Linked DNA regions of Homo sapiens: all the other regions are reported to be linked to region 1. The links are microRNA targets in miRTarBase. Many come from high-throughput screens and were not tested one by one. Region 1 holds a microRNA gene; each other region holds the end of a gene's coding sequence.

The links. Region 1 holds the annotated microRNA hsa-miR-490-3p (CAACCUGGAGGACUCCAUGCUG, at 1,967-1,988, opposite strand). A microRNA usually pairs through its seed, bases 2 to 8, with sites in the 3' UTR of a target mRNA and lowers its output. Matches are read on the target gene's strand: a 7mer-m8 pairs with bases 2 to 8, a 7mer-A1 pairs with bases 2 to 7 and ends in A, and an 8mer does both.
Region 2: miRTarBase lists NFAT5 as a target of hsa-miR-490-3p. Seed matches in the 3' UTR shown: 7mer-A1 at 714-720.
Region 3: the mRNA of TSPAN15 is a reported target of hsa-miR-490-3p. Seed matches in the 3' UTR shown: 7mer-m8 at 3,814-3,820.
Region 4: miRTarBase lists QDPR as a target of hsa-miR-490-3p. The part of its 3' UTR that is shown has no 7-base or 8-base seed match.
Region 5: miRTarBase lists ATP5MJ as a target of hsa-miR-490-3p. The part of its 3' UTR that is shown has no 7-base or 8-base seed match.
Region 6: the mRNA of RBM7 is a reported target of hsa-miR-490-3p. Seed matches in the 3' UTR shown: 7mer-m8 at 1,106-1,112.

What each region holds. Positions count from the first base shown.
Region 1 is chr7:136,899,794-136,905,229 of GRCh38, reverse strand. It overlaps MIR490 (microRNA 490), which reads right to left and starts at 2,063; the gene lies at 1,936-2,063. The region is part of intron 2 of CHRM2 (cholinergic receptor muscarinic 2); the gene reads right to left. LOC349160 (a long non-coding RNA gene) reads left to right here. Exons shown (of 4, transcript NR_046103.1): 3 at 3,229-3,380; 4 at 5,413-5,436.
Region 2 is chr16:69,694,249-69,699,684 of GRCh38, reverse strand. NFAT5 (nuclear factor of activated T cells 5) reads right to left here. Exons shown (of 15, transcript NM_138713.4): 14 at 4,306-4,549; 15 at 1-3,325. The coding sequence ends at 4,314. Among named protein-coding and RNA genes, the nearest start is that of SNORD13H, 12 kb to the left of the region's middle.
Region 3 is chr10:69,505,824-69,511,259 of GRCh38, reverse strand. TSPAN15 (tetraspanin 15) reads right to left here. Exons shown (of 8, transcript NM_012339.5): 7 at 5,020-5,136; 8 at 3,594-4,431. The coding sequence ends at 4,282. Among named protein-coding and RNA genes, the nearest start is that of TSPAN15, 57 kb to the right of the region's middle.
Region 4 is chr4:17,482,587-17,488,022 of GRCh38, reverse strand. QDPR (quinoid dihydropteridine reductase) reads left to right here. Exons shown (of 7, transcript NM_000320.3): 7 at 787-1,628. The coding sequence ends at 892. Among named protein-coding and RNA genes, the nearest start is that of QDPR, 27 kb to the left of the region's middle.
Region 5 is chr14:103,907,950-103,913,385 of GRCh38, forward strand. ATP5MJ (ATP synthase membrane subunit j) reads right to left here. Exons shown (of 4, transcript NM_004894.3): 4 at 4,339-4,745. The coding sequence ends at 4,717. Among named protein-coding and RNA genes, the nearest start is that of ATP5MJ, 11 kb to the right of the region's middle. RefSeq lists an enhancer at 2,837-3,337.
Region 6 is chr11:114,407,060-114,412,495 of GRCh38, forward strand. It overlaps RBM7 (RNA binding motif protein 7), which reads left to right. Exons shown (of 5, transcript NM_001286045.2): 5 at 386-3,548. The coding sequence ends at 748. Among named protein-coding and RNA genes, the nearest start is that of RBM7, 9.1 kb to the left of the region's middle.

The DNA of each region.
Region 1 (5,436 bases):
AGCTTAGAAAATTCCCAAAATATAGACATTCTAAGACCATATTATTGGGGCAAAATGCAATAAAATTAGAAATTTGTAAGACAATTTGAAATAACAACAAAAGCAACAAACATCTAGCACTTCAGATTTTAAAAATTAAAATTATTATACAAAAAAGAACAACCCAAACTATAATTTTCAACCAATATTAATATTTGTGTTGAACATTTGATTTTGCTATCATCACAGTACTGTACACTTATAAACATATCTCATTTAATCTTACAAAGCACTATAATGTAAATATACTCACTCTAAATTACAAATACAGAAGTGTAGTGAGTTAAAGTCCCTCTCACAACATGTGTGAAACTGTCAGAATTCAAACCTAAGCTCCTTGATTCTAAACCCGTGCTCTTTTTCACCTGGTCTTAGCCAAAAGACTGAAAAGCAGCAAGCCTGTGCTCCCTTAATGTTAACCAGGCTATATTTTAAACATTTAGATGAGACTAAAGCAGTTGTCAGAAACAAATTCATAGCTATAAATGTTCCCAATATTAAAGAAGAAGTATCAAAATTTTATAATGCAGAAGAAACTAAGCTTTAAACTCAAGAAATTATTTTAAAAAGGGAAACAAAAACCTCTACAGAATTAAAAAGAAGTAACTACAAAAGTAAGATAAGTAATAAATTATAAAAATCAAAAGCCACAAAACTCTGGCAAAAAAGCATGAGAAAAACATTTAATATTGGGAAAAAGAAAGGAAAGATAAATTTGGAGAATAATTATTTTAACAGAATCATATGCACAATTATTTGATAAATACTACAAGCATTTTTCTTAAATAGATAATGGTAGCCATCTATAATTTAACAAAATTAATGAGTAGAGATATAGAAAATGTGAATAGGCAAGTGACTTAGAAAAATGTTATAATAATTTTTAAAACTGTTGTAAAAAATGATTTGAGCTTTTTACCAGAAGTTTTCCAGGAAGGGCCATTCAAACATTTAGAGAATTGATCATCGTTCTATGTAAAATTTTCAACAGTATAAGGATGAAGGGGAAGCTACCAATTGGTTTTATATAATCAAGTGATTATGAAATAAATTTCAGCCAAAGATAACTCAAAAATTAAAAAAACAAACTTTTAACTCAGTTTCACTTGCAAATGTAGATGCAAAATGCTTTAGTAAAATGGTAGCAAATGGAATTCAATAGTACATTAAAAGAGTAACATATCATGACAATTAAAGCCATTGGATTTAGAAATGTATTAGTATCAGGAAAACAAATAACATGTCACTTCACATAGTCTGAATAAGAAAATATATATATATGATAATTCCAATACAAGAAAAATAAAACATTTGATAAAGGTCATCTCCTTAATATCATGTACAACACCTACTTTAAACCAAACCCCAAGGCCATATTACTGTTAAAACACTAGTAGAGTTATTAAAACATCACAAGAATGACTGTTTCAGCATTATTAATTAACATTATAAAACATTTAGCCAATTAAAGATATAAATAAAAATGAGAAATATTGTAAAACAGAAGGCGTATTATTTAAGAATAATATGCTGATACACCAACTTTAGAAATCCAATAAATTTAAATTTTAGAAAATTGCAGTCTTAAATGCTAGATTTGCCTGTTACTAAAATTCATTCTGTACATAATTAAAATTCACAAACAAATATTTTACTTATACTTCTATCATTTCTAATCAGCTTTTTAAAAGAGAAATCTTTTAATACTTATTTTCATCCTAGTAGTTTACATTGTGACACCAGCTCTAACAATATCCACAAAAATAACAAATACTTGGATGCTGAGGTGTGAATTTTGTTCCCATTTTTGAAAGCAGGAAGAGTAAGACTTCCTTTTGAAGGAGATTTGCACATACACTATAGAAGACACCCATTTAGTTCTTGGGAAGATGGAGTTGGAAGTGTCCGCTGCTTGTGAACAGCTCAACAGCATGGAGTCCTCCAGGTTGGTGCATCTCTAAACTTGACCCACCTGGAGATCCATGGTGTCGAACAATGAACTTTCCAAACCAGCAAGGCCTCCATAAAGTGAAGGGAGATCCTCTTCACCACCGTTGGTTGAAGAATAAAAAACCTACACCTACACTAGCCCAAATGAGTTTCTGTTGTTTGTCTTCTGTGTCAGAATTTCATTCATTCATTTCCCATCTCTGGCCTATTGTTTAAAGTTGCTGGCCATAATGTATACTTTCCAGACTCCAGGTTAATCCCAGGCTGAGAAGCTTTGTTTGTTTGATAATGAAAAACTGAACAAGGAAACAAGCAAAAACTTGCAAATAATGTGTACCTTATCATAAACATCCAAAGAGTACAAAATTCTGTGCTCTGCAGTTGCTGTATAACAAACATATTAAATTGTACTTGATTGAGCAAATATTTACATCTTACTGTGGAATTTCAAAGTTTAATGTCTACACGTCTTATTAAGGTTGTTATCTATTATTGTATGGTGGAGAAAGGATATCTAGCTGATAGTCATGTTTAAAAACTGACCTGGGTTTGGGACTGCAACCAAATTCTAAGGGCCTAGCTGTTTATGATTTGCCCATTCCATTCAGGGTCGTCCTAATCCCTTCTCAATCTAAGATGCTTCATTCTCACTATAGTTTGCTCGAGAAAGAAAGTGGCTGCTTATGGTATGAGTTCATAAGAGTCATCTAGGATTGTGTTTAATACCCTATCCCACCAGCTTCTAATTTTTACGTGCATTTAATTGGGGCTATATTTGTTAGTTTTCAATTAGAAAGAGACAGATAAAAAGTAAACTGCACACATTATCAGAGGATGCTATAGCTTACCTTCTCACTTATTATGAATTTGCCACCTAAATTCAAACTCTTCTGAAATTTATACCAATTATTAATTCTGAAAGCAATTCTGATTATCTTAATAACTAGCAACTGACTGCAAACATAGAAGGATAGCTAGGTGGATAGATGGATGGATGGATGGATGGATGGATGGATGGATGGATGGATAGATAGATCGATAGATAGATAGATGAGTTTAAAAGGAAGATCACAGAATCAATGTTAGTAGTTAACAATTATTTTTATATTTTGTTTTGAGAGTAGGCTTTGATGGAGCCTAATGAAAGCCATAGAAGAAGCTAAGGGGAGGCTGGACTGTTATAAACAACCCTTCACTTATCTAATACAATTTAACTAAGCTTATCATTTTTTTTTATAGAAAGAGAAATTGATCAGAATCTACTGACAGTTCTTCCTGTCTGGCTGTGTAATGGATTAGCATAGAGACGAGCAGCACACCTCTGTCAGAAAACCTAAATTTAAGTCACATCTCGGGGCTCTAACAATTTACCACCAACAGCGTCTTTGGAGGTCAGCCCCTGAGTCCATGATTCCCCTGTATTATTGGGAAAGAATTAAGAGGTTTTGTGAGTTATGCATGAGATGTGTGTGCAAGTTCTTTGTAAGCTGTAAATCTTACACATTTATGAAATTATCAATGTTGTTATTTTGTAAATGCAACTGATCAAGAGGCTAGGTTCTTACAACAAATGGATCAAAAAGCGTCTGTATGTTCTCAAAAAATAACAATGGAAATGGGGGAAAAAAATGACATCAGGGAATGGCCAAACTGGGTTGCTTAGGGTCCAAAGATCATTGCTATTCAAATCACTGCACTACAAGATCGGGTGAGATCTGCTAATCTGTTTGGGTCACTATAGGTCAGGGCACAGCACATTATAGATGCTAAATAAATGTGTTTTGTATGAATAAATACACATTTTTCTTTTCCTGTAGTCAATATTTAGTGTGTCTATTTTCAAATTTGCCTACGTGGTAAAGCCACAGTGACATTGAAAACTTGCCCTGCAAGTGCCTGTGAATCTGAACTGTCTCAATCTGTTTCTAGCTGGAATGCAGCTAGAACTGCATGCAACCCACTATACCTTTCTATTTTTCCAAGAACCAAAAACCGCAAGTCCACATATTTAATTTCACGTAATTCTCACATGCCTGGATCTTGGAAATGGAATTTTTCCTTTCCCAGGGCACTCGTTTCCACTTTGGGGGTGCCCACACTCCCCGGGCTGTACAGGACAATCTACTGGCTTGCAGGAAGAAAGTATTAGAAACTCCGTTCTCAATTACTGTTATATCATTCTCTAAAAGAGGTTTTTTGTGTATGTACTATGATATACATAATCATGGAAAAATTATTTCTATGTAATTTATAAATAAGAATATATCCATGCCTTGATTGGAGCTCAAAATTCTGTTATGAATAGAGGTGTGTAGCTCACATTCTTGGTACCCTACCCATATCATTCAGATCTTTCAGTGTTCCCCTGCTGACGTCTATATGCCACTGTCTGCTTCTCTGTGTCTGGGGGCTTTTTCAGAAACCTAGGAAGGCCACTCTGCTCACCCTGCACATACGGAAAACCAAAAATGCCTCGGGTGTTTACAGCCTCTAGGAGCAGGCTTTAAATAACAATTCTTTTTTTAAAAAAAAGATTGTTTAGCAGTTGGCAAGATAATTATGAGACGAGCAATTCTGTGCCATTTCTTAGAATGCCTCATGTGTGTAAGCTCCAGTCTCCTCTGAGATGCCCAGCTTAATAGAAACCTTTTTACTGGCAGCCTCTTCTTCCCTTTTCACATCCCCTCCTTCCTAGATGGCTCCTCGCACTTCACAAGTAGAAGTGAGCCTTGTTTCTGGGAGAACCAAACTGAAGTAAGCCTGTGATCAAATCCATCAGATGCTGCTGCTCCAAGCTAAGGCTCCATTCTGTTAGTTTTCAACGCAGCCTCCTGCTCAAAATTACTAACAGGGCAAAATCAGTCTGGTTTTACTTCTCCCTATGGCTAAGTCTAGTAATGTAGTATAATATTAAAAAAAATAGTTAACTTGGCTGCAAAACATTTAGGTTAGTCCTAGGAACTGTTTAAGGGTCTTTGTTTCCTTTCACTAGTATCTTCAGTGTCCACATTGGGCTGCTCTCTGACTCAGAGCCAAGGGTTGGGGAATGTATCACCTGCTGTTGGTGGTGATGATAGTATCAGAAATAAGCCTGTCTTTTGTTCTGACGGAATTTCATTTCTCCTTTTAATTCATGCAAACAAAACCATGGCTCACTAGGTATGTGAGTTTGTTTTTACTTATTTATACAGTCTTCAATGCCTCCCAGTAAATTAAAAAGAAAAATAATAGCAATGAGAAAAACTAAGAACTCTTGTTTAGAGAAGATGATTATTCTAGATAATTTTCAATATTGATTTTTCCCCAGGGATTTGCTAGAGGTATTTGCATGAAACAAGCTTTTTAAACTATGAAGTGTATTCATATCTATGGTTTATCACCTAGCCCATAACTCCTGTTTATATCTTTCCTCCCAAATATTAGCTCTGAAGAAGATCCTGATTTTCT
Region 2 (5,436 bases), not on the chromosome of region 1:
GTTTCTATGGCCTTTGCTGGCTCACTGAGTCTCTCCCATATGTAGCTATAACTTGTAACAGTAATCAGGAAATTGCATTATTAGCACAAATATCAACCACTGAGCTTCAAAGAAGATGAATACTCTTCGTAGCCAAATTGTATTTTCAGAATGTTGTACTTAACATTGACCTTTAGGGGTAAGGAACATTTAACAATGTAAAAAAAACAACAAACCTATTATTATTGAACAAGAATATGGTAGCATAGCACAGCCCTTGTATAAATAACCACAAAATTTATGAGAATAAAAATCGGGTTTTCTGTCTCCATCCGATCAAACCACTACAGTTCAGGTATATATTCTGTTCTAAACTTAGATATTATAAAACAGAAAATTGGTCCCAGTGACTTGGCATTGCCAATTAGCATTTGATAACAATAAACCTCTTGCTAAACCACAGAAGTCAGCACACAAGCCAGTCGCCACTTCATCCACAGTGCAGTATTAACAATCATCCTAATTAGAACTTGAACAGATAGATTTCTTTAGTCTCCTATGTAATCTCTTAGAAAAAAGTTCAGAAAATTCAAAAATAACTTACAGATTTGTATTTATACTACTTTTTATACCTGCTGGGTTTGCTTTGTCTGAAATTTCAACCAACCCTACTTTAGGGTTAGAATTTTACATTTTCAAACTGAAGCACTGGATTGTGTGGCTGATCCTCCTCATAACCTGAACTATACTGGGTAATTTTTCCCAATAGGGGCTGGGGGAGAAGAGATACACTGAGGAAAATACTTTTGGTTCAGAGAATTTATAAAGTAGCTCTGGATATTACAAGATGGGAAAAATGTTATTAAAATTACAAACATGGGTTTTCTTAGTGTCTTTATAAATAAAAGGCATAGAATACAGAAAGCCAATTAATAATAACAATAACAACAATAATAAAATATTAAATATATAGTGAGCAAAGACTGAATGGCTCATTCTTGTGAAACACCATTTGACGCCATTGCCTCAATGGGTTTCCTGACTCTAACACTTGGCTGAGTGAAAGCTCCAGCAAACACACAGTAAGCTGCCTTTAGCCCACTACTGACATCAAGGAACTAACTGCCTGATGGAATGGCCACAGATGAACAGGTCATTTGTTTCAAAAGATACTTAAATACTCAATAAAGACATAACAAACCCCACCCCCCCTCACTGTTATCAGACGCCACGTTGTGGTAGAACATCAGACAAACTCACAAATTTACCACAAAAATGTGTGGCAAAAAAGAATAGTTTATATATATGTATATATATAAATTTCTATATTTATGCCAATGTACTCACTCAGTACAAATAGCAAAATAGTATACCATTTCCTAAATACAAAATATAGCTTTCCAAAAAAATGAAACACACATTAGATATAAACCATCCAAAACTTGAACGATTGAAAACTGTATTCAAAATTAAATGACCCAGAGTAGGTCTCTTTCTGAAAAGTTCCCTTCATATCGGCAAGAAGCCTGTACTACTGAAAACGTAATTCAATGCCTCTCAATCAGAGAGAGAAAGAAAGAAAGGGGTGGAGGTGGAGGGAAGAAAACATGAGAAAAAAGAGAAAAAGACAAAAGAGCACATTCAAAGAACAAAGGAAGATCATCACAAAACAAAAAGAAGGAAAAATCTGGCTGTGTAAACAAAACCAACACCACAATTCCGCACAGTTCAACTAAATGTACAGGATAGAAAAAAAAAAAAAAAAAGAACAGAAAAGTAGCCTTCAACAATTAACAGGTTATTTTTTGTACACTTAAAAAATAAATGAAACGGACAAGGATACCAAAACATTATCTCAACACATAGAAGCCACACACACGTTGGCCTTACACTGCATTGACAGCTTTCCACATGCCAAAAGGAAAATGAGACATAAGCATGTGTCCAGACACAGGTGGTAGTGAGAAGCAGGCATCCCACGGGTGGCAAGAACACCCAAAACTGTATAACTAATGCTACAACTGCCAAGTTCTGGAGTGTGTTATTTTGCTCTTTATAGATGTAACACAAGTTAATTCTTCATTTTAAGTCAATGATACAACCCTGTAAAGCCTAAGGCTTGTGGGAACCATCAGGTAAGTGACCACTTCAAACTGTAAAGCACTGAGGTGACAAGTGAATTTATACTCACTGCAGATCAGGGAGAAGTGATATTTCAAGAAATTTTAGTTTGCCTTTTTTTTTTAATTAAAATTTATACTGTTTCCTATTAGAGGGAAAAATTTGAAGACTTCAGAACAGCACCGTTCATGGGGAAAAATGTGTTGTTTCTCAGGAATCAACTCCTAATAATTCCTAAGACAGTACTCTCTGCCCTGTGCTGCAGGATTGCTAGGTCACCCTAGATTAAAGTGGCCAAAGATGCTACAGGGTCATGAAGCCAGTAGTATATTAATAGTTCTCTAAAGTAAAGTGAAAAAGAGGTGAAAAGTAATATAGATATATATAAAAAGGGAATACCAGCCTAAGACTGGGTTAAGAAGAAAACATTCAAATTTTTCTGTCAATTTAAACTACTGTAGGAGGATATCAGAACATAATTTATCATATATTATCCCCTTCATTTTTTACAGATAATTATTTTTCTATGCACAGTTATGGCTAAACCCCTTAGTAGAAACCCAGAGAACTAACAACTCTCTGAAAAAATAAAATCAAGAAGCATTCCAGCTGTTCCCAGTTTTATAAGTGTATCATCTGCCTTTGTGTTAAATCAAGAGTACTTTTATCTGCACATACAGTTTACTTGTTAGAATGTTACCCTTCAGTTTCTCCAATAAAACTGAAAAAAGATTCCTTCACTTTGGCCAACAGCTGTGCCTTTTATATTGAAAAAAATCACAGCCTTAGTTATTATTGAACTTTACTTTTTCAAAAGCCATTACTTGACTAAAACAATGCAGGAAAGAAAATAATGAAGAACAAAAGTAAACATGATATATTATTTTCTAATAGCAATAATAACTGAGTGGTCCAGCCTTGAATTTAAACTGTACGTTTAAGGAAATTGCGCCTAGGAAAATAATAACAATTAATTCTGCCAGCTGGAAACTCAAATAGATTCTCAGTCATCACTGTTATTAGGAATATAAAATATGAAGATGTTAACATTGGTGGTTAGTTACTGCAACAAGCAGCATAGGTGTGCTCTTTTGCAGTCAGAGTAAAATCTATCAGTTTACTCAAACACAGTTTTTTATATTTTGTTTTGTTTTTAAAGTAATAATTCTCATGGAACCACAAGATCTCAGGACATCTTGGAATCAGGATTTTCTTCGTGGAATTTCTAAAAAAGAGAAAAAGTTTAATTTAACTTACTAGGGAGGGAAGCATTTATAAAGTTTCTGACACCCTGAATGATCCTAAAGTATATTATGGTACTGTAAGTAAAACTTTATCATATTTGATCTTCCACAGACTTTTCTGACTCAATATTTATTTCTGGAGGAAGGGATAAGTGAGGCATGGTTATATCCAATATATAGTACAAAGGAAACACATTTTGCATACTCATCAGATGTTTTGTTATTCCAAGGCAAAGAAGCTCAGAGGCAGAAGGAATGTCCAATATAGGTTGAGTATCCCTTATCTAAAATGTTTGGGATCAGAAGTGTTTCTGATTTCTTTTTTGGATTTTGGAATATGCACATATACACAATGAGATATCTTGGGGATAAGACACAAGTCCAAACATGAAATTCACTTCTGTTTCACATACACCTAAAAAAATCTATCACAGCTGAAGGGAGCTGGAAGGATCTTTTTTACCCTTGGGGACACCAAATAAACTGCATGTTGTGAGCCTGACTTTTGACTATGACCCTATCATATGAGGTTAGGTGTGGAATTTTCCACTTGAGATGTCATGTCAGCACTCAAAAAGATTCGGATTTCAGAGCATTTTGGATTTTGGATTTTTGGACTAGGGATGTTTGGTCTGTATTTTTTTTTTTTTTTGTATTTTTTAGTAGAGACGGGGTTTCACCATGTTAGCCAGGATGGTCTCGATCGCCTGACCTCGTGATCCGCCCACCTTGGTCTCTCAAAGTGCTGGGATTACAGGCATGAGCCACCACGCCCGGCCTGGTCTGTATTAACTATATGACCATAAGCTATCATTCAGAATAATTTTATTCAGAGTAAAAAAGTATCATCTTGTGAGAAAGCCACATTTTAAAAGATTAGAACTACTATTACTTAACCTAAATCTGTTAAGAAGAATAAAATCTGATGCTTTTCAATAAGAAGCCAAAATGCAATACTTACATATCCAGTTAAAAGGAGCCAGTCAAGTTGTTCCCTTGGTTTTGCAATGAAACAAGCAAATCAATCTTTTCGATGTTCTGGTTGGTGTTTATAGAGGATGCCAGTGGAGAATTCTCTGGCATTTGCTGAGAAAGAAGTGTTGTCACAGGTGGCTGGCCCTCGTTTTGTGGTTGGCCTGGCTGACTTATGGCCATCAACTGATCAGGCAATGTAGCTGGTCCAGAGGTTAAAAGCTGACTACAGTCTGCAGAGACATTGAAAACAGAAGCTTAAAAGCTGACTACAGTCTGCAGAAACATTAAAAATAGAAGCTATCTGATTAGTAAAGATTCATGAAAAGATATTTATTAGTTGTTGGGGAAAATTCATTACTGCATTCTCCTTGTATATTACTAAAAGTTAGGCACCTGATAGTCCAAGAAAAAGGTTTTCACAGACTGGCACTGGAATTCATCTTAGGTTTCCTTTAAGCAGTCTAAAAATACAACTTTGCTTAAATATCAAAAGTCCTATATAAATTCCTTGGTATATAAACATTAAAGATGAGTTTCTACCTCCTTAGAAACTACTTACTTCAACTGGGTAAGGTATTATCTGTCATTCTGACTTCATTTTCCTTTTAAGTTTATAGCTTAAAATGGCAAACACACATTTTTATACATTGCCATATTTAATCCTCCCCAAATCCATGTAAAGTATGTAATATTATCACCATTTTAAATGAGAGAATTGAGACCCATAAAAGCCAAATAACTTGTACAAGATCTTATAGTCTATAGGTGATAGAGTTCTAACTACAATCTGTACTCTTAAAACAACTATACAGGACAGGTGTGGTGGCTCACGCCTGTAATCCCAGCACTTTGGGAGGCCGAGGCCAGCGGATCACTTGAGGTCAAAAATTCAACACCAGCCTGGCCAACATGGTGAAACCCCGCCTCTAACAAAAATACAAAAATTAGCTGGGCGTGGTTGTGCACACCTGTAATCCCAGCTGCTTGGGAGGCTGAGGCAGGAGAATCACCTGAACCTGGGAGGCAGAGGGTGCAGGTGCAGTGAGCTGAGATCGCACCACTGCACTCTGCTTCCTTCTAATAATAATAATGACCAATTAAGTAATGAAAAATTAGA
Region 3 (5,436 bases), not on the chromosome of region 1:
ACAAGTTCTGAAATTGAGGCAGTAATTAATAGCCTACTAACCAAAAAAAGGCCAGGACCAGACAGATTCACAGCCAAATTCTACCAGAGGTATAAAGAGGAACTGGTACCATTCCTTCTGAAACTATTCCAAACAACAGAAAAAGAGGGACTCTTCTCTAACTGATTTTATGAGGCCAGCATCATCCTGATACCAAAACCTGGCAGAGACACAACAAAAAAAAGAAAATTTCAGGCCAATATCCCTGATGAACAACGATGCAAAAATCCTCAATAAAATACTGGCAAACCAAATCCAGCAGCACATCAAAAAGCTTATCTACCACGATCAAGTCAGCTCATCACTGGGATGCAAGGCTGGTTCAACATACGAAAATCAATAAACGTAATCCATCACATAAACAGAACCAATGACAAAAACCACATGATTATCTCAATAGATGCAGAAAAAGCCTTCAATAAAATTCAACACCCCTTCATGCTAAAAACTCTCAATAAACTAGGTATTGATGGAACATATCTCAAAATAATAAGAGCTATTTATGACAAACCCACAGCCAATATCATACTGAATGGGCAAATGCTGGAAGCACTCCCTTTGAAAACCAGCACAAGACAAGGATGCCCTCTCTCACCACTCCTATTCAACATAGGGTTAGAAGTTCTGGCCAGGGCAATCAGGCAAGAGAAAGAAATAAAGGGTATTCAAATAGGAAGACAGGAAGTCAAATTGTCTCTGTTTGCAGATGACATGATTGTACATTTAGAAAACTCCATCGTCTCAGCCCAAAATTTCCTTAAGCCGATAAGCAACTTCAGCAAAGTCTCAGGATACAAAATCAATGTGCAAAAATCACAAGCATTCCTATAAACCAATAACAGACAGAGAACCAATTCATGAGTGAACTCCCATTCACAATTGCTATAAAGAGAATAAAATACCTAGGAATACAACTTACAAGGGATGTCAAAGACCTCTTCAAGGAGAACTACAAACTAGTGCTCAAGGAAATAAGAGAAGACACAAACAAATGGAAAAACATTCCTTGCTCATGGTTAGGAAGAATCAATATCGTGAAAATGGCCATATGGCCCAAAGTAATTTATAGATTCAACGCTATCCCCATCAAGCTACCATTGACTTTCTTCACATAATTAGAAATAACTACTTTAAATTTCATGTGGAACCAAAAAAGAGCCCGTATAGCCAAGACAATCCTAAGCAAAAAGAGCAAAGCTGGAGGCATCACACTTCCTGACTTCAAACTATAGTATAAGGCCACAGTAACCAAAACAGCATGGTACTGGTACCAAAACAGATATATAGACCAATAGAACAGAACAGAGGCCTCAGAAATAACACCACACATCTACAATATCTGATCTTTGACAAACCTGCAATGGGGAAAGGATTCCCTATTTAATATTTAATAAATGGTGTAGTGAAAACTGGCTAGCCATATACAGAAAACTGAAACTGGACCCCTTCCTTACACCTTATACAAAAATTAACTCAAGATGGATTAAAGATTTAAACATAAGACCTAAAACCATAAAAACCCTAGAAGAAAACCTAGGCAATACCATTCAGGACATAGGCATGGGCAAGGACTTCATGACTAAAACACCAAAAGCAATGGCAACAAAAGCCAAAATTGACAAATGGGATCTGATTAAACTAAAGAGCTTCTGCACAGCAAAAGAAACTACCATCAGAGTGAACAGGCAACCTACAGAATGGAAGAAAATTTTTGCAATCTATCCATCTTACAAAGAGCTAATATCCAGAATTTAAAGGAACTTAAACAAATTTACAAAAAAAAAAAATCAAACAACCCCATCAAAAAGTGGGCGAAGGATATGAACACACACTTCTCAAAAAAAATAAGATATTTATGCTTCCATTTCTTTAGAGGTGAGTGACCAAGGTTTGGAAAAGAGGAGATGAGTGTCTGCTGGAGCTTAGCCATCTGTGGCACCAGCGCTGGTCCACATAAGCAGCTGGCCAGCGGTGCAGTGTGAGGTAGAGGGGTGTCTGTGAGTGGTGCTGGAAAGAGGGAAGACAAGGGGTCCGGGTTCCAGGGTCCAGGTAAGGTGACCTTGGATAAGCGATTCAGACCAGCCTGTCTCCTACGGGGCCTCTGCCATCCTGCTGCCCCTAAAGGCAGCTGCCGTCTCCCCTCTGGGCACAAAAGGGGTTCTCAGAACAGCCAGAGCCCCAGGACTACAAGGCCTCCAGCCAGACACAGAGCTTGACCTGGCCTTGTGTCCATTAGGTCAAAGTGGGACAAGACAGAGGCTGCAGCAGCGGCTACAGTGAATATCCCCAGGACAGAGCTTCAGAAGCAGCTGCAGCCTCCACTGGTTTTGCATGCCTAGTACCATGTGTGCACAGGAGGCAACAGAGACAGTAAAGCAGAGGGGCTGAGTGGCTCAAGAGATCCTATCTGGGCTCAAGTCATGGCTTTGTCACTTACCAGCTGCCTGCCTGGGCAAGTTACTTAACTGCCCTGTGCCTCAGTTTCCCCACTAATAAAATGAAGATAAGAATTACCCTAGTCGTGAGGATTAAAGGAGTTAATATCGTTCCTGGCAAAGTATGCTCTATGGTGTGTTTGTTATTGTTGTGTTATTGCATACTTTAAAATACCCTCCTCCTGCCCCTTCTTACACATGCGTTTGGCACCCATGGCAGACCAAGCATCTGACCACTTAACTACTGGGTGTGTAGATGGTTCCCACCGTTAGAATCCTTCAGGTTTGGGGCTCTTGCTGCTTTATTTCTTCTTCTTTTTTTTTTTTTTTTTTTTTTTTTTTTTTGAGATGGAGTCTCACTCTGTTGCCCAGGCTGGAGTACAGTGGTGTGATCTCGGCTCACCACAACCTCCGCCTCCCGGGTTCAAGCGATTCTCCTGCCTCAGCCTCCTGAGTAGCTGGAACTACAGGCGCGCACCACCATGCCCGGCTAATTTTTGTATTTTTAGTAGAGATGGGGTTTCACTATGTTGGTCAGGCTGGTCTCGAACACCTGACCTCGTGATGGCCCACCTCAGCCTCCCAAAGTGTTGGGGTTACAGGCGTGAGCCACCATGCCCGGCCTCTTGCTACTTTATTTCTATTGCCCTGGCTACTAAGAGCCTCACAAAAAATCTAGATCCCATGTCTTCTGGCCCGAAGGTTTGAGTGGACTGACGCACGCAAGTCCCGGCATCTCCAGCAGGGGTCGACCGACACCACGCTCTGCATGCGTTGCGCGGCAGCCATTAGGCACACTGAGGGCTGCAGGGAGCGCGGTAGGTGGACCTGTGGGCAACTCCGCTTCCCTGGTCCCCCACCCCATCCACCCCATTTCCTGGAGGTGGAGCCTCATGCTGTACCTGGCCCAGGCTGTTTCCCTCGGTTCTCGGTAAAATAGGCGTGGTCACCTCTGGCCCTGAGGCTTTCCCCCCAACCCCCCACCTGTATCCCAAGCTATGCCAAATCTTCACCCCATGCACCCCCTTCATCCTCGCATCCACAAGGGGTTTCCAAATCCAGGTTGCAGCCTTCCTTACCCCCGCCCCAACAAAACAGCACACAGGAAAGGCAAAAAAAAAAAAAAAAAAAAAACATGTTTTTATTGTTTGATTAACAAACTGGTTGGGGGAAGGGCAAGAATAAGACATGCGGGGAAATACCAGCTTTGATTAGTCAGAAACTCCTGTTATCTGTACAAAAAAATGAATGTTACAAAAATCACGTAAAAAAACTAGGCTCAAGGAAGCAGCCGCCCTTGCAAGAGGGCTCAAGGCACCTGGGAGGCTGAGAAGAGGCCAACCTGGCCATGGGCGTGGCTGCATGGACAGCTCTTCCCTCCTGCCCTTCCCCAGATGCCCTTCCCTCCTGCCCCGAGGGGCACACTCCCTCTCCCCAATTACAGGTGCTACAAAACTGCCTTGAATACCACCGCCAAGGCACTGCCAGAGATGAAATGGGCCCTGAGCAGAGCCTCAGGCTCTCCCTCCCCCGTAGCCCAGGCCTGGAGAAAGGAGGGCCTTGTTCCCCAGGCCCCAGGTGGGCACAGATTCCAGAGCTGCCTCGGGGAAAGCCTCTTAGGGGAGGCCCAGGCTCTGCTCCCTGGGGAGGCAGAGGCCGTGGGACCTACACACAGGCACACACAGCCCTGGCTTTGGTCAGTACTGAGTGTGGGCAGAGGGGCCGCAGCCCTGTCCAGCCCCACGATGTTGACTGAGAGGTGCTATCCCAGACGGTCCTTGTTGGAGCTGCCATGGCAGGCTGGGCCCTAATTGGGGTAGCACAAGCAGCATCCCGTGCCTGCCGCCTCCACGCTGGGCTTGGCACCGGGCCCCAGGAGCCCATCAGTGACAGAGTGCTCCATGATGATGTCCTCCACCCGGGTGATGTACAGCAGCGTCAGCAGCACCCCCAGGAACTGAGAAGAAGGGGCAGGGCTGGTGAGGGCCTGCTGGGAATCAGGGCAGCCCTCCCTGCAGCTCCCGGCTCCCAGAAACCCAAGCAGCCAGTCCCAAGCCCTCATGGTCCTGTGTGACCTGGGCAACACCCACAGCAGAGACTTCTCCCAGCACCCACACTGCCCAAGAAGCTCCCACCTGGGCCCCCTCTCCCCTTCCCAGGAAATCCCAGAGCGCCTCGCTGTGCCCCATCAGCAAGGGCCCCTCCCTTCTGGGATTCCTGCCTCCACCCCAGCTCTGCTGCACACTATCTAGGGGATCTTGGCAAGTCACTGAAGCTTGCTGCTCCTCAGTTTCCTCCTCTGTGAAATAGGCATTATAATAGTGCCTCCCTCACAAAAAGAAGTGAAGCAGCAGTGCCTGCGCAGCACTTGGAAGAGCTTCGCCACGACTGCTATTGCCATTTGCCCCTCCTTCCAGCCATGCAGCCCTCCCCAGGCAAGTCCTGGACTTCTATGAAAAAAGCCTCTTCGCTCTTCCCCTCTGCACCTTCTCTGCCCTTCTGCAATCACCAAGTCACACTTTCTCTGAACCCACGGCCTGCCCACCTGGGGAAGCAGGATGCCCAGGAGGATGCCCGCCATGATGGTGTAGTTGTCCATGAACCAGATGATCACGGCGTTGGTGCAGCCCCGCACGTAGATGACATCCTGCACACTGAAACGCTGCATGGGAAGGAGCTGGGTCAGCCCAGCAGAGGACCTCGGCTGGCAGGAGCCACAGCCCCGACTCTGCCATGTACACAAGGTCCAGGCTAGTCCCTCAACCGCTGTGATCCTCAGTTTCCCATATGCAGCATGAGAAGGTGACCCTAGATTCTGATTCTTAATGGACAGTACTGTTCTCTAGAGAGGACTGGGGACACCGTGGTGGCACTTTTGGTTGCCCCAGCAAACGAGGTTGGCGGCTGAGGGACTGCAGAGCTCAGGGTAATCCTACTCCACAAACAACTGCCCTGCCTGTGT
Region 4 (5,436 bases), not on the chromosome of region 1:
CCAAATTGCTGAGATTACAGGTGTGAGCCACCACGCCTGGCCAAATTAGAATCTTTTAAAATCACAAAAGAATTCCAACAATGTAGAAAAATACCAAAATGAAAGTTAAACTTATGCCAAATCCTGCCACTCAGAGATTAGAATGAGTACACCACTGAACTCACTGGGGGCCTGGGTATGTGTCCATCATGCCTACTGGCTTTTATTAATTTTTTATTATTTTTTGGAGATGGAATCTTGCCATTGTGTCCAGGCTGGCCTCAAACACCTGGGCTCAAGCGATCCGCCCGCCTTGGCATCTCAAAGTGCTGGGATCATAGGGGTGAGCCATAATGCCTGACCTTTAGTGGCTTTTATTTATTTATTTATTTATTATTTTTTGTGAGACGGAGTCTCATTGTGATGCCCAGGCTGGAGTGCAATGGTGCAACCTCGGCTTACCTCTGCTTCCCGGGTGCAAGTGATTCTACTTCCTCAGCCTCCTGAGTAGCTAGGATTACAGGCACGTGCTACCACGGCCAATTTTTGTATTTTTAGTAGAGATGGGGTTTCATCATATTGGCCAGGCTGGTCTCGAACTCCTGACCTCAAGCGATCTGCCCGCCTCGGCCTCCCAAAGTGCTGGGATCACAGGTGTGAGCCATGGCGCCCAGCCCTTAGTGGCTTTTAAACAGTCGCTGCTGTGCCACCCCTTCCCCCCACCCCACAAGCCGTCACTGTGAAGGTCAGCATGTGCCCAGATTTTTGCTTTGAGAATATAAAAAAAACTTTTATTTTCTGTTCCAGAACTTTCCATGACTGGATCACAGGGAAAAACCGACCGAGCTCAGGAAGCCTAATCCAGGTGGTAACCACAGAAGGAAGGACGGAACTCACCCCAGCATATTTTTAGGCCTCATCTCAGTGCCTATGAGGGGCCTGCCAGAAAAGTCACTAACCTGTCTCAGTGTGGCCTTGTCCAGCCTTGTGTTTTCTGTAACCCCTGTTTGTGGTACGAGATAATGAGTCCTATTTTTCTCTCACATAATATGCATTTGCTCTCCTAGGACAGTGTAATACATTTATGTGAAGTAAAGACATGCGAGACTGGTGGCCTGCAAATAGCATCCGTTGATCTGTGTTAACTGCATAGGGAGGGCTCTGCATAGCACCTGCTATAGCGGTGTCATGTTGGATCGCTTTTGTGACTGTTCATCTGTCCTTGACAGTGGCTGTCATCTTGACTACTTTGTTGATTTGTTGGTATTGGGGACATTTTAAAGGCTGAGTTATTTTTGAATGTCATGTTTATGTCATAGACGTAGTTTTCGCATCCTTGAATTAAACTGCCTTAACTCCTTTTGTGGTATAAGCAAAACTACATGGACTCTGTCCTGGTATCCTTTTCCTGTGTGGTTGCCCCGTGTCCTCTGGCCTAGGGTTAAGTGTGCAAGATAACTACTCGTGAGTATTCAGAATGTTGTTCCTAATAAATGCACTTGTTGTCTGTCTTCTTTAATCAAATCACATCTTATATACAGCAGTCAGAGATGAGTATACTAGAATCATGGATTGCTGGAGGTCTTTTAATCTGATGTTCTCAGAAGGGGGTGGATTTAAATCCTGAAATAAATATTTCAACACAAGAACACAGGCCTGATTCTGCCTTGGACATGTCAAAATCTGGGGGTGATGGGATGGCCCTGTGCATTTAGAAGCAGCTCTCCACATATGGCCAATGTAGGCTGTCCTGGTTGAGAACTAGTAGTGGTTTAATCCAACCCGATCATTTTACAGATGAGGAAACTGAGGCCCAGAGAGACATTACCTTGTTGCCAGTAACTGGCAGAGCTAAGCCCAGATCTCTAGTCACCAGACAGTTGCTGTTTTTAAAGGCCTTTACCACGTATTTTCTTTCTTTTTTTAGTGAGGTGAAATTCACATAATTTTTTTTTTTTTTTTTTGAGACAGAGTCTTACCCTGTCGCCCAGGCTGGAGTGCAGTGGCGCCATCTCGGTTCACTGCAAGCTCCGCCTCCTGGGTTCACACCATTCTCCTGCCTCAGCCTCCCGAGTAGCTGGGACTACAGGCGCCCACCACCACACCCGGCTAAGTTTTTTTGTATTTTTAGTAGAGACGGGGTTTCACCGTGTTAGCCAGGATGGTCTTGATCTCCTGACCTTGTGATCTGCCCACCTCGGCCTCCCAAAGTGCTGGGATTACAGGTGTGAACCACTGCACCCGGCCAAAATTAGCCATTTTAAGGCTAATTTTAAGTATTAAAAGTTAAGTAGGTGAGCAGTTCAGTGGCATTTAGCACATTTACAGTAGTGCATAATCACCACCTCTGTCTAGTTCCCAAACATTTCCATCACCCCAAAAGAAAAACCAGAGCTCTTTAAGCAGTTCCTCCCCATTCCTGCTCCCTAACCCCTGCAACCACCAATCTTCATTTTGTTTCTGTGAATTAATTCTGGGTATTACTATTTTTTTGAGACAGTCTTGCTCTTACCCAGGCTGAAGTACAGTGGCATGAACATGGCTCACTGCAGCCTCGATTTCCTGGGCTCAAGCAATCTTCCCACCTTGGCCTCTCGAGGAGCTGAGACTACAGGCACGTGCTGCCACACCCAGATATTTTTTAAAGTTTTTTGTAGAGACAGGTCTTGCTATGTTGCCCGGGCTGGTCTCAAACTCCTGGACTCAAGCAGTCCTCCTGCCTTGTCTTCCCAAAGTGCTGGTATTACAGGCGTGAGCCATTGCACCTGGCCTGTTCTGGGTATTTTGTATAAATGGAATCAGTATGTGACCTTTTGTATCTGGCTGCTTCTACCTAGCTTTATGTTTTCCATGTTCTTCCCCATTGCATCATGTATCAGTACTTTCTTTCTTTTTGTGGCATAATATTCCATTATATGTATCCACTGCAATTTTGTTTACTGATCTGTTGATAGACATTTGGGCTGTTTCCACCTTTTGGCTGTTGTGAGCATTGCCGCTGTGAACATTCATGTATAAGTGTTTGTGTATCTGTTTTCAATGATTTTGGATATATACCTAGGAGCAGGATTGTTCGACCATATGGTAATTTTTGTGTTTATCTTTTTTTTTTTTTTGAGATGGAGTCTTGCTCTGTTGCCCAGGCTGGAGTGCAGTGGTGCGATCTCAGCACACTGTAACCTCTACCTCCCAGGTTCATGTGATTCTCCTGCCTCAGCCTCCCGAGTAGCTAGGACTACAGGTGTCCACCACCACACCTGGCTATTTTTTTTTTTTTTTTTTGTATTTTTAGTAGAGATGGAAGAGACAGAGTTTCACCATGTTGGCCAGGCAGGTTTCAAACTCCAGACCTCAAGTGATCCACCTGCCTCGGCCTCCCAAAGTGCTTAGAATTACAGCTGTGAGCCACTGCGCCTGGCCTCTATGTTTAACTTTTGAGAAGTCTCTTGATTCTTGCCACTACGAGGTGATTTTATCCAACTATTACAGGAAAGAAAATGGGAGCTCAGAAGGTTGGACTGCTTGTTCAAAGTCACCTAGCTAGAGAGCTGCGCAGCTGGAACTAGTATACAAGTCTAGCTGTTGAAAGCACCCTGAGCACATTACCTCATGCTGTACCTTGCATGTCTTGTTGTTTTCAATTTTCAGATGAAGAAACAGTTCCACACACTAAGAGACTTAACGAGGGTACAGTTAGTTTCAGGAGAGCTGGTAGTTTTCATTCCGTTTAGAACCGGACCTGGTAACTGTTGATTATCCTAATAAATGCACTTCATTTATCGTGTTGCCTTTTTATTTTGAGACAGAGTCTCGCTCTGTCACCCAGGCTGGAGTGCGGTGGCATGACGTCGGCTCACTGCAACCTCCGCCTGCCTGGTTCAAGCGATTCTTCTGCCTCAGCCTCCCGAGTAGCTGGGACTACAGGCGTGCACCACTACACCCAGCTAATTTTTATATTTTTAGTAGAGACGGGGTTTCACCACTTTGGCCAGGATGGTCTCAATCTCTTGACCTCGTGATCCGCCTGCCTCGGCCTCCCAAAGTGCTGGGATTCACAGGCGTGAGTCACCGTGCCTGGCCTGTCTCTTTAATCAAATCACATCTCATATCCAGCAGTCATAGATGAGTATGCTAGAATCATGGACTGCTTGGAAGTCTTTTAATCTGGTGTTTACCTACTCATCCGTTGGTGGAAATTTGGGCTGCTTATTAATTATTAATTATTTTTAATTATTGAATACCAGATCTGGTTTCTAAATGGAATGAAGACTACCAGCTCTCCTCAAACTAATTGATTATTGAGGTGTGTTTCTTTTCCTTCCCTGGTGATGTGCAAAGAGAATGAAAAGGGAAAAGGGGCCAGGAAGGAGATGTTTTTTCTCCTTCATTCATTCAACAGCTAATCTTGAGTACCAACTGTGTACAAGGCACTAACCTAGATGCCTGGGACACATAAAGAACAAGTAGACAAAGACTCCTACCCTTAATCATTGAGTTTTATTCTAGATGGGGGAGAGGGTGACAGATAATAAACAATAGAATTCATAATATGAATTCATTGGAGAGTACGAGAAAGGTGAACTGTGGGGGGAAGAGAGCAAGGTAAGGGGGTGAAGGAGTGTTGGGGAGATTGGGATTGCAATTTCAGAAATGGTAGTGTTATGAACTGAATGTGGGTGTCTCCCCCAAATTTGTATGTTCAAGACCTCACTCTAATGTGGCTGTATTTGGAGATGGGGCCTCTAAGGAAGTAACTAAGATGAAATGGGTTCGTGAGGATGGGCACTGATTCAACAGGATTAGTGTTCTTATGAGGACAGACACCAGAGTTCTCCCTCTCACTTTCTTCCCACACGCATGCACTGAGGAAAGTCTGTGTGAGGACACAGCAAGGAGGCTGCCGTCCACAAGCTGAGAAGAGAGCCCTCACAAGAGATGGAATTGACTGGAGCCTCAGTCTTGGACTTTCAGCCTCCAGAACAGAGAAAATAAATGTGTGATGTTAAGCCACCCACTCTGTGGTGTTTTGTTATGGCAGCCCACACTAATACAGGCAGTGATGGAATATCTCGTGAGGAAGTGACGTTTGAACACATCTGAAAGAAAGTGTAGAAGGCAGCCAAGGGCATCTGAGGTAAGGACATTTTAAGACAGAGGAACCAGTCATTGCAAAGAGCCTGAGGCAGTAGTGTACCAGGTGGGGTGAGGAACACAGGGAGGCTGGGTTGGCTGGGGCAGAGAATGGAGCAAACAGAGGGGCAGTTTCAGGAGATAAGATCAGACAGATGATTGTGTAGGGTAGGGGTCCCCCAATTTTCTAGGCCCACAGTGCCCTTAGTGTCTCAGTAATTTTTTACAATGCCCCTACATCAAAGAAACTAACTAATGATTTGGATTTACAAGTGGTTGGGTTCTAACAATTTTATAGTAGTAATATGACTGATATTGCTCTATGAC
Region 5 (5,436 bases), not on the chromosome of region 1:
AGGTCAGGAGATCGAGACCATCCTGGCTAACACAGTGAAACCCTGTCTCTAATAAAAATACAAAAAATTAGCCACGCGTGGTGGCGGGCGCCTGTAGTTCCAGCTATTCGGGAGGCTGAGGCAGGAGAATGGTGTGAAACCGGGAGGCAGAGCTTGCAGTGAGCCGAGACTGCGCCACTGCACTCCAGCCTGGGCAAGAGAGCAAGACTCCATCTCAAAAAAAAAAAAAAAGAAAAAAAAGAAAAAAAAGCAGATCAGGAAGACAGCATGGAAACATTTATAACCATGAACATTTCAGTCCTGAGTTGTAGTTTTAAAAATGTTTTTATAACCATAAAAAATTCAGTCTGGAGTTGTAAATTTAGTTTAAAAAGTAAGGTTTTTTTGGGGGGGAGGGGCAAGGTCTCACTCTGCCACCTGGAATGCACAACCCTAGCTCACTGCAGCCTTGGTTACCCAGGCTCAAACGATCCTCCCACCTCAGCCTCCTGAGTAGCTTGGATTACAGGCGTGAGCTGTCACAGCCAGCTAATTTTAAAATTTACTTGTAGAGACAGGGTTCTGCCATGTTGCCCAGGCTGGTCTCAAACTCCTGGCCTCAAGCAATCCTCCGGCCTAGGCCTCCCAAAGTGCTGGAATTACAGGCATAAGCCACTGTGCCTGGTTTAAAAAATAAGTTTTTATTCCTAACTAAATGAGAGTTTTCTGACATTTTCCCTCTAGACTTAGGTGTTCATTAACTCTGGCCTATATTACATCATTCTTTAAGAGGGAAAACAAGTGAAAAAGCTGAGACTTCCTTTGTAGTAAGAGACATCAGGGGAGCGGTTGTTGTGAAGAGTGGTGATGAGACAGTCACTGTCTGACAGAGCCGCCCGCAGAGTCGTTACCTTCATTTCCTGGGGCTGCACAGTGCCAGCTTCTCAAACAGGTATTATAATACTAACACAGGCTTCCATCACATGGCTTTTTTTTTAAAGTATTTTTAAAAACTTTTTATTGGGAAAAGTTAAAATGTATGCAGAGTGAATTCTGTAATGCACTTCTAGACGTCCACCCCCTACCCTCTACACAATTACCGATCTCATCCCATCTAGAGACTCCGTCCCCCCAATCTGTTTTGACTGGCTAGTATTTGCTGGTGTATCTTAAAGTACATCCTAGGTATCATTTCACACCTACATAATTGCGCCTGCATTTCTTTCTTTTTTCTTTTTGAGACAGAGTCTCTGTCGCCCAGGCTGGAGTGCAATGGCACGATCTCGGCTCACTGCAACCTCCGCCTCCTGGGTTCAAGCAATTCTTATGCCTCAGCCTCCCAAGTAGCTGTGATTACAGGTGCGTGCCACCACGCCTGGCTAGTTTTTGTATTTTTAGTAGAGACACGGTTTCACCATGTTGGCCAGGCTGGTCTTGAACCCCTGACCTCAGATGATCCACTGTGCCCGGCCTGCACCTCCATTTCTAAAACCAAAGAAATTTTCTTTAATAACTACAATACCACTATTGTGGTGGTGATCACCTAATAAGATTAACACTTCAACATCACTTAACACCCAGTCCACGTTCACATTTCTCTGTACGTACCAGAAATGCCTCTTGGTGGCTGGTTTGTCTGAAGGGTGGAAGCAGGGTCCGTGCTCAGAGCTGGCTGTTGAGCAGGTGCTGTGCTTGCTCCAAGGCCCGTGTGCAGCGAGGCCTGATGCTGGCGCCCGTCAGACGGTTCCTAACAGCACAGACGTCCAGGATTGTGTCTGCCAAGCACTGGCACTGTGTGTCTGCAGGTCTGTTCTCTAGCCTCTGTGTTCAGGGAGTGAAGAGAACGTGTGCTAACCACCGCCGCATCCCCGACGGCAACGCACGCCCAGCACAGGTGAAGGAGCTCTCTGAAGCCACGCTGTGGTCCGAGTCCCGATTCTGAAGCGGGTCAGATTTTGAATCCTGGCCAACCAGTTAACTAGTTGGTTTGTTAGCCAGGTAGTTATCCTCTAGTACAAACTACTTATCCTGTCTGGGCATCCATTTCTTCAGCTGTGAAATGGGGTGATGGTATGGGCTCACGGGTTATTGTGCAGATAAAAATGAAGCAGACTACGGCCTGGCACCCCGGAACTCGGGATCCGTTAGCTTGACAGAGACAACTCCCTTGAGGGTGGCAGGAAGCACACCCTCCAAAGCCTCTGGTTGGGGTGCGTGTACCCCTGGGATACAGTGACAATCAAGAAGAAACACCATGCCTTCTCCTAGAGTCTCATCTGAGGCTAACTTAGAGCACGTTGTTTAAAATGACACCTTCAGCTGCCTGTGAGCCACTTCCTCTCCTCCCAGCCTTTGTCGTTACTCTGCAGCACAGCTGAGCACTGCATTAAGTCAGAGCAGCACGAATGCGTAGGCTTTGGGACAAAAAGCCTCTGGGATTCCTTCCTGAACTGGCCCTGCCCACTCCCGTGGCTCTCTGTGCATACCTCTTGCCCATTGGCACCGCCCTCCAAATGCTCCTTTCAACAGATCCTCCTGGCCCCGTGCTCCTCGCCCACGGGGAAGCCCAGGTGACATTCTCTAGCTCCACCTACAGGCTGCCTTCGGGACAAGACCTGGTTGTTTCCAAAACCCCGAGGGATTCAGTGTGTGAGTGAGTTCTGGGATAGCAAATGCAATTATTTTTTGTTTTCTTTTTGAGACAGGGTCTCGTTCTGTCGCCCATGCTGGAATGCAGTGGTGTGATCTTGGCTCACTGCAGTCTCGACCTAAGCTCAAACAATCCTCAAGCATCAGCCTCCCCAGTAGCTGGGATTACAGGCGCACACCGCTACGCCTGGATAATTTTTGTTATTTTTTGTAGAGATGGGGTTTCGCCATGTTGCCCAGGCTGATCTCAAACTCCTGGGTTCAAGCGATCTGCCCGCCTCAGCCTCCCAAAGTGCAGGCGTGAGCCACTGGGCCCAACCTACCCTGGTAATTTGCCAAAGGAAGCCTTAAGTAGTAAAGGGAGAAGAGGAATGGCCCAGCCTTTGTGGGGAAGCCCTCCTGGGTCAGACACATCAATCTCTGCTTCCGGGGGTGAGGTGGGGGGTGGGGGTGGGGAGGGCAGCTCCCATCCGTCCTCACCTCCCTTTGGAGGAGAGTTCAGGTTCTGGGGGTTCAAGTCCTAGCCCCAGTGCTTGCTAACTGCGACATCTGTAGCGTGTTACTGCCTCTCAGCCTGTTTCCTGTTCTGAAAGTCAGGGCCTGTACTGATGCCTCACTAGGTTCTAAGGTGGACTAAATGCACTAAGATGCGTGACACAGGGCTGGAGCCTGGTGCCAGTGCAGTGGATGTGAAGGCTGTGATAGGGCAGGCCTGGGTTCTTTGTATCATTAGAAATTTTCCAGCTGGGGTCCTGGCATCCGCATGTCCTGGATGCTTGTTAGACATACAAGTTCTTGGGCTCCTTCCTACAGCAGTGCAATCAGAACACTGGGGCCCAGCTGGCTGTTAGGGCCTTCCAGGTGATTCTAATGCACTCTCAAGCCTGAGCAGCTGGGCAGATGGATAATTTTAAAGGTAGGGCCTTTCTGTACCACAGCAGATTCATCTTCTGGAGGCAGAAGAGAACAAAATACGTTCGCAGGAAAAATGTGATTCCTGTGTCAGAACCAAACCCTCTGAATCTCACACGACCTGACGCTGACTTCCACTGATGCTGTGTAATGCTTTCCTGCAAACTTCTCACACAGCCCAACAACCCTGAGGCTGTTGGAGGAAGCCATGACAGGTTTTGGTTGTCTTACAAAAGAAACTGAGGCTCAGAGAGATCTCCGTCATCTGTTGGACATCTACCATGGGCCAGACCTAATGAGGCTAAATGCCAGAGACACAGATGATAAACAGGATGGTCTCAAGAGGACAGGACACCCAGGGTGCAGCCACCACCCCCATTCCACAGCTGCTCTCCTACCCACCTGCAGAGTGCCAGATTTCAAACTGGACTCACTTTTACCCCCATGCTTGCTGCTTTAGAATCTTTTTAGCGCACAATTTAGGGATCTTGGTAATTGTCTTAGATGGAGACAAATATTATGCAGTATGCATTTGATACTAGCCTAACTAGAATCAATTGGCTTTTTTTTTCAATTGGCTTATTATGTACTTTGCCTTGTGATTATTTCCTGATGCAATATTCTCCTACAGCTTATAATTTCAACTACTATGTCATTGAATGCTACCTTATTTCTAAAGGACTTCATAGTTTAAATCTTTCTCTTATTTATCCTCATAATAACTGTAAGTTAGAGCTTACATAATTAACATCTCCATTTTCCAAATAAGAAAACAAGAGGCTCAGAGAGGCCACAAGATAAGTAGCAGGATCAAGTTTAATAAACGTTTATTGAGCAGTAGAATACAAGTGAGTGCCTGGATCCTGATCACCAAGTCCTGTACAACTGAGGTAATTATTTCACAATGATGGGTGGCTCAGTGAGATTCTGATTGCATGCGCTGCATGACAAATTATCTACTCAGAGTATGCCTGACACGCCGGAGGGGCTGAGGGGGAACACACTGAAAGCAGTACCAGGTAGCAGTGCATCTCACAGATCCATTTATTCATGCCATGAAGTAAACGGTACTTATACAAGTGTACAGTGACGTTCCACGCTCCCCATCTAACACGGCTTGCTGAAATTTACAGGCAGACTGACGTTTTCTTTCACATGTACTCCAAGTAAATCTGGTTAGTGATGACCAGGAGCAGGCGCTGAAGCTTTTGAAAGAGATGCATATATAAATATGATTTAAGAAGGAAGGAACAAGTTGGATGTAATTTATTAAACAAGTATCAAAAGAAGTTGATCAACAGTCCAAAAAGATAAATGACACCTTTCAATACTATTGAAAAGTAGGATTATTTCTATATGAAACACCCAGAGTGCTTAAGGGTTCATGTAATGACAGCAGACAGGCAGTGGTCACCCACAGCGCAAAGAGAGAGGCAGGGAAACACCTCCTCCTCAAACTCATGTAGCCAGTCCTGGGTTTGTGTAACATTCAAATGGCTACAGTTTCATTGTCACTCTGGCATAAATTTATAAGGCGCTTTCTTTCAAAATACATTAAAGGCCAGGCGCAGTGGCTCACGCCTGTAATCCCAACACTTTGGGAGGCCAAGGCAGGTGGATCACCTGAGGTAGGAGTTTGAAACCAGCCGGCCAACCCCATCTCTACTAAAAATACAAAAAATTAGCCGGGTATGGTGGCGGGCACCTGTAATCCCAGCTACTTGGGAGGCTAAGGCAGGAGAATTGCTTGAACCTGGAAGGCGGAGGTTGCAGTGAGCCAAGATTGTGCCACTGCACTCCAGCCTGGGCAACACAGCGAGACTCTGTCTCAAAAAAAAAAAAACCCAAAAAACAAAACCAAACCATTAAAAACACATCATTACGGGTAGGCTGAGG
Region 6 (5,436 bases), not on the chromosome of region 1:
TTTCCTTTTCTTGGCATATCTCTCCCTTAAAATATGAAAATATTCCATCCATTGTTTTAATACCCAGATCATATGCCACCTTCATGAAACCTTTCCTAATGATACTGATCTCCTGATTCTTTGTTTTTTACACAGTGATTTTGCATTATAGTCATTTTGTGTGACTTATTCTGAGTTGCATTCTTGAGGACAAAGAGTAGTATTTATGTATATATATGTATCTTGTAGGTATACATTGGAATGATTGAAGCTATTGTACTGCTTTAGTTGTGGATCCATCTAGGCAAGAGTGACTTTATTTTCTTTCATTTTCTGTTAACTGACCAAATACATATTAGCTTTGATATCTAGAAGTATTAACATTTCCACTTTTCCTATTCCTCAGATGAACAGTGCTTTGAGACAAATGTCATATGGTGGAAAATTTGGTTCTTCACCTCTGGATCAATCAGGATTTTCACCATCAGTTCAATCACACAGTCATAGTTTCAATCAGTCTTCAAGCTCCCAGTGGCGCCAAGGTACACCATCATCACAGCGTAAAGTCAGAATGAATTCTTATCCCTACCTAGCAGATAGACATTATAGCCGGGAACAGCGTTACACTGATCATGGGTCTGACCATCATTACAGAGGAAAGAGAGATGATTTCTTCTATGAAGACAGGAATCATGATGACTGGAGCCATGACTATGATAACAGAAGAGACAGTAGTAGAGATGGAAAATGGCGCTCATCTCGACACTAACACATGTTAAAAGGACATTGTTTTTATAGGGTCATTTTAGGCCCTTTGACTAAGTTGATATGGAAATATTTTGTTGAAAAACTGTACAGAGCAGCTTTACAAGTTGTCACATTTCTTTATAAATTTTTTTAAAGCTACAGTTTAATACAAAATGAATTGCGGTTTTATTACATTAATAACCTTTCACCTCAGGGTTTTATGAAGAGGAAAGGGTTTTATGCAAAAGAAAGTGCTACAATTCCTAATCATTTTAGACACTTTAGGAGGGGGTGAAGTTGTATGATAAAGCAGATATTTTAATTATTTGTTATCTTTTTGTATTGCAAGAAATTTCTTGCTAGTGAATCAAGAAAACATCCAGGTTGACAGTCTAAAATGGCTACTGGTATTTTAGTTAATTCAAAAATGAAACTTTTCAGTGATTCACTTTACTAACATTCTATTTGAGAAGGCTTATTGGTAAAGTTTGGGGATAAAGGCATTGCTTAACTTCTTATATAATTTAGGTATAAATTCTGTGACATGCTCTTGAGCTTTACCCTAGTTGAACATACATGTGTAGATTTACACATACTGTTTCATTCTAAAATTTAGAAATTGTTCATTAAATCCCATTTGAGGTATAAGTCACTCAGGAAGTTAAAATATCTCTACACGTATATTTTTACATTAAAAATACAGTGTTAGCATAAATCCCCTTTTCAGGAAGAACAAAAATGTCAGTGCATAGTTAGATAAAATGGTAAAATGTTTTACTGAAAGCATACTTTTTTGGAAAATAGATTCATGAAGCCTTTAAGTGCTGCTTCTGTCAGTCAAACGTTAAAAACTTTAACATTTTCAAAGTGCCCAGACTGTGTACAAAGACACATGTAATGGAGATTGTACAGGTTGTTTTTTTGTTTGAACCTTTGAAAGAGTTTAATCTTAACGTTTTCTAATTTTAAAATTTTAAAATCTTGTTTAACAAAAGCTTGTATTAAGATACTGTTTTCATTTCATTACAGAATTGTTTATAAAAGTTCATTTGTTGAAAAATAAGGATCCTTTTTAATACCACAGCATTTGTACTGTTCCTTTTTAATATACTGAAAATATAAAAGGAAGGGTGTGTGTTATTTTTTTTTTTTTATGTCACTGACTTCAGAGACATTGTACACAAAGAATTAACATACTTTTATTCACTGATTGCCTGCTGTTTAGAATATCAGTTCTTTAATTTTGAGCATCCTGAAATACATCTTTTGTACATATAGAGCATGATGTTTCACAATCAGATTTTCAGTGACCCCTCGATTATAGCTTGGAGTACTTTAGTTACCCTCAGTGGTCTCTAGGAGTTAAAGTACACTTAGATTTCCTGTTTATAAATGAATTCAGTTTTTCTGTTTCTAAGTAAATGTAGCTATTCAACTACTCACTATAGAATTAAGATAAACAATTTGTTTGCTTAAGCATTTTCACAGAATTTGTTTCCAATGAGATTATTATTTTTGGGTATCTTATCCATATGAAAACTTAGTAGGTTTGTAGATGTTAACGAAGATTAATACTGCATGTTTGTTTTTGTTTTTTTTTTGAGACAGAGTCTTGCTACGACACCCAGGCTAGAGTGCAATGGCGGGATCTCAGGTCACTGCAACCTCCATATCCCGGGTTCAAGTGATTCTCCTGCCTTAGCCTCCCGAGTAGCTGGGATTACAGGCACCCACCACCACGCCTGGCTAGTTTTTGTATTTTTAGTAGAGATGGGGTTTCACCACATTGGCCAGGCTGGTCTCAAACTCCTGACCTCAAGTGATCCACCTACCTTGGCCTACCGAGGTGCTGGAATTACAGGTGTGAGCCACCGCGCCTGGCCTAATACTGCTTTATTACAACGTTATCTGTGGGTCGGATCCTTTTATATTGGTTAACAGATGACCCTGACTCAGAATAATCTTTTTCAATGGCTTTTTGAGGGAAGCTTGTGAAGTTCTGGTGAATCTTCTTTTTCACTTCACTTTCAGTGAGCTGAAAGTAACCAAACTAAATACATGTATTGTGTAAAGGGACAGGACAAGACAGCCTTAAAAAATTGAATATAGTTGGTGAGACAACTCAGAAGTACAGGTTTGAGCATCCCTTATTCAAAATGCTTGAGAAGTGTTTTGGGTTCTGGAATATTTGCATTAATGCTTGCCAGTTGAGCATCCCAGGTCCGGAAATCCACAGTGCTCCAATGAGCCTTTCCCCTGAGTGTCACATCTGTATTGGCACTCAAAAAGTTTCATATTTTGGAGCATTTCAGATTTCAGATTTGGGATGCTTCATCTATATTGACAGCTGCAAGAACAGAAAGGAAGAAGAGATTATTTTTGTGGGAGAACAGTTTCTCCCATAGTGTTTCCTGTGGAATGCTAGTGTCTCATAAAGTCTTCTAAAAAAAAGAAAAAAAAAATCAAATGTTTGGAAGCCATTTTGTGTTACTGTGTGACTTTCTTTTACTCAAAAACAGCACCATAAAATTTCTGACAAGTACTATAGGTAAAGAAATCCCTTTATACTTAACCTAGTATTTTCTACCTTTCCCCATCTAAAATAAAATTTTTATACCACTTTCTAATTATGTTGTGTGTGCCCACTTTCCCCATACCTACTGCTACCATCTTAGAGTAGGCAATTTTCTCAAGAGGATTATTCCAAGAACACCCTAATGTTTTCCTGCTTCCAGTCTTCTTTCCTCAAATTTATTCCACACTCTTAAGAATTGAAGATGTAAATCTGTCACTCGCCTGAATAAAGCTTCAGTGGCCTCTGACTTAAGTACAAAATTCTCAACTTAATATGACCCCTATTTGGCATGTGCTACTTCAGTCTCCTCTGATGACTTCCCCACTTTAGTTCTCATAGTAACTGCCCTTCACTGCTCAATCTATGCATTACTTCCTCTAGAAAGCCTTTCCAGAGCTCTGAAATCCAGATTCAGTGCCAAGTTATGTATTCCCCAAATATCTTTTTCTTTTATCATAGCCTTTAGACTGTATTATAATTTTCTTTTTACTTGTCTGTCTCTGTAGACAGCTCTATGAAGACAGACCTTATCTTATTCATCACTGCATTCCCAGGATCCAGTGCCTGGCATATATTTAACAGTGAAACTTTTTGATGAAAGGAAGAACGTCTGTTAATTGAATAAGGAAAAGGAGGATTCAACACATAAAACTTTGAATAGGCTCTCTAAACCTAAAACATTGCATCCTGAGAATTACATGTCACAGTACATGTATTCTAGAATTCTATTTGTTCATTTTGTCAAACTTCAAAAAGTTTTGGATCTGTATTCATGAATAATGTGTGACTTTGTTTTTATTTTATTTTAATTTATTTATGGCAGAGCCTCACTCTGTCACCCAGGCTGGAGTAGAGTGGCACAATCTCAGCTCACTGCTACCTCCGCCTCCTGGGTTCCAGTGATTCTCTCACCTCAGCCTCCCGAGTAGCTGGAATTACAGGCACCCACCACCACGCCTGGCTAATTTTTGTATTTGTAATAGAGACGGGTTTTCCCCATGTTGGCCATGCTGGTCTTGAACTCCCAACCTCAGGTGATCTGCCTGACTCGGCCTCCCAAAGTGCTGGGATTACAGGCATGAGTCACTGTACCAGCCTGATTTTGTTTTTTAATTGTATTATCTTAGTTTGGTTTAGGAGTATGGTTCTGCTAGCCTTATAAAATAAATTGGCAAGCTTATCATCTTCTATGCCCCCCCCCAAATTTGAATAATAAAGGAATTAGCCGTTTCTGCAAGATGTGTTGAACTCATTTATACAACTATCTGGGTTTGCTTTGGAAATAGCTCTTTGATTGCTTTATCAATTTCCTTTAGAGTTATCTTTTCAGGTTTGCTACTTTCTCAGGAAACAATTTGGATAATTTATACTTTTCAAGAAAATCAACCATTCCCTTTTTCTGAATATATTGCTATAGAGTTGTACATAGTATTTCTTATAATTTTTGTAAAACTCCTAATATTGTCAATAGTGCAGTTTTAGTTTCTGACGATATATTTTACCTTCCCTCTCATCCTCAGATGAGACTGGCTGTGCTGTTTTGGCATACATCTTACATTTATATATGTTATAAGCCCCACACTACCTTGTTTTTGTTAGGCAGATTCTTAAATAATAGAAAATTATATATAATACTTAAGAAAAAATAGGAAAAAAAATCTTACTATTTACCCCCATAGTTACCATTTCTGGAGCTCCTCATTCCTTTGTGTTAGATCCATTTATCTATCTGGTATTATTATTCTGCTTGAAAGACTTCCTGTGGTATTTCCCATAGGGCAGCTTTGCAGGTGATGAAATCTTTTAGCTTTTGTATATCTAAAAAAGTCTCTTTCAGCATTTTGAAATATATTTTGAAGAATATTTTGAAATATATATTTAAATAAATTCTAGGTATAGAATTCTAAATTGATGAGGTTCTTTTCTTTCAATTCATAAAAATAGTTGGTCCATTGTTCTCTTGATTATTTCCCATAAGGAAATCTTACACATAATGTGTCATTTTTCTCTAGCTGGTTTTGAGCAATTGATTACTATGTGCCTTGACATAGTTTTCTTCATGTTTCTTGTGCTTGGGGTGCATTGAGCTGCATGAATCTGGAGTTTTCACCTGATTTGAAAACAACTTTAGACAT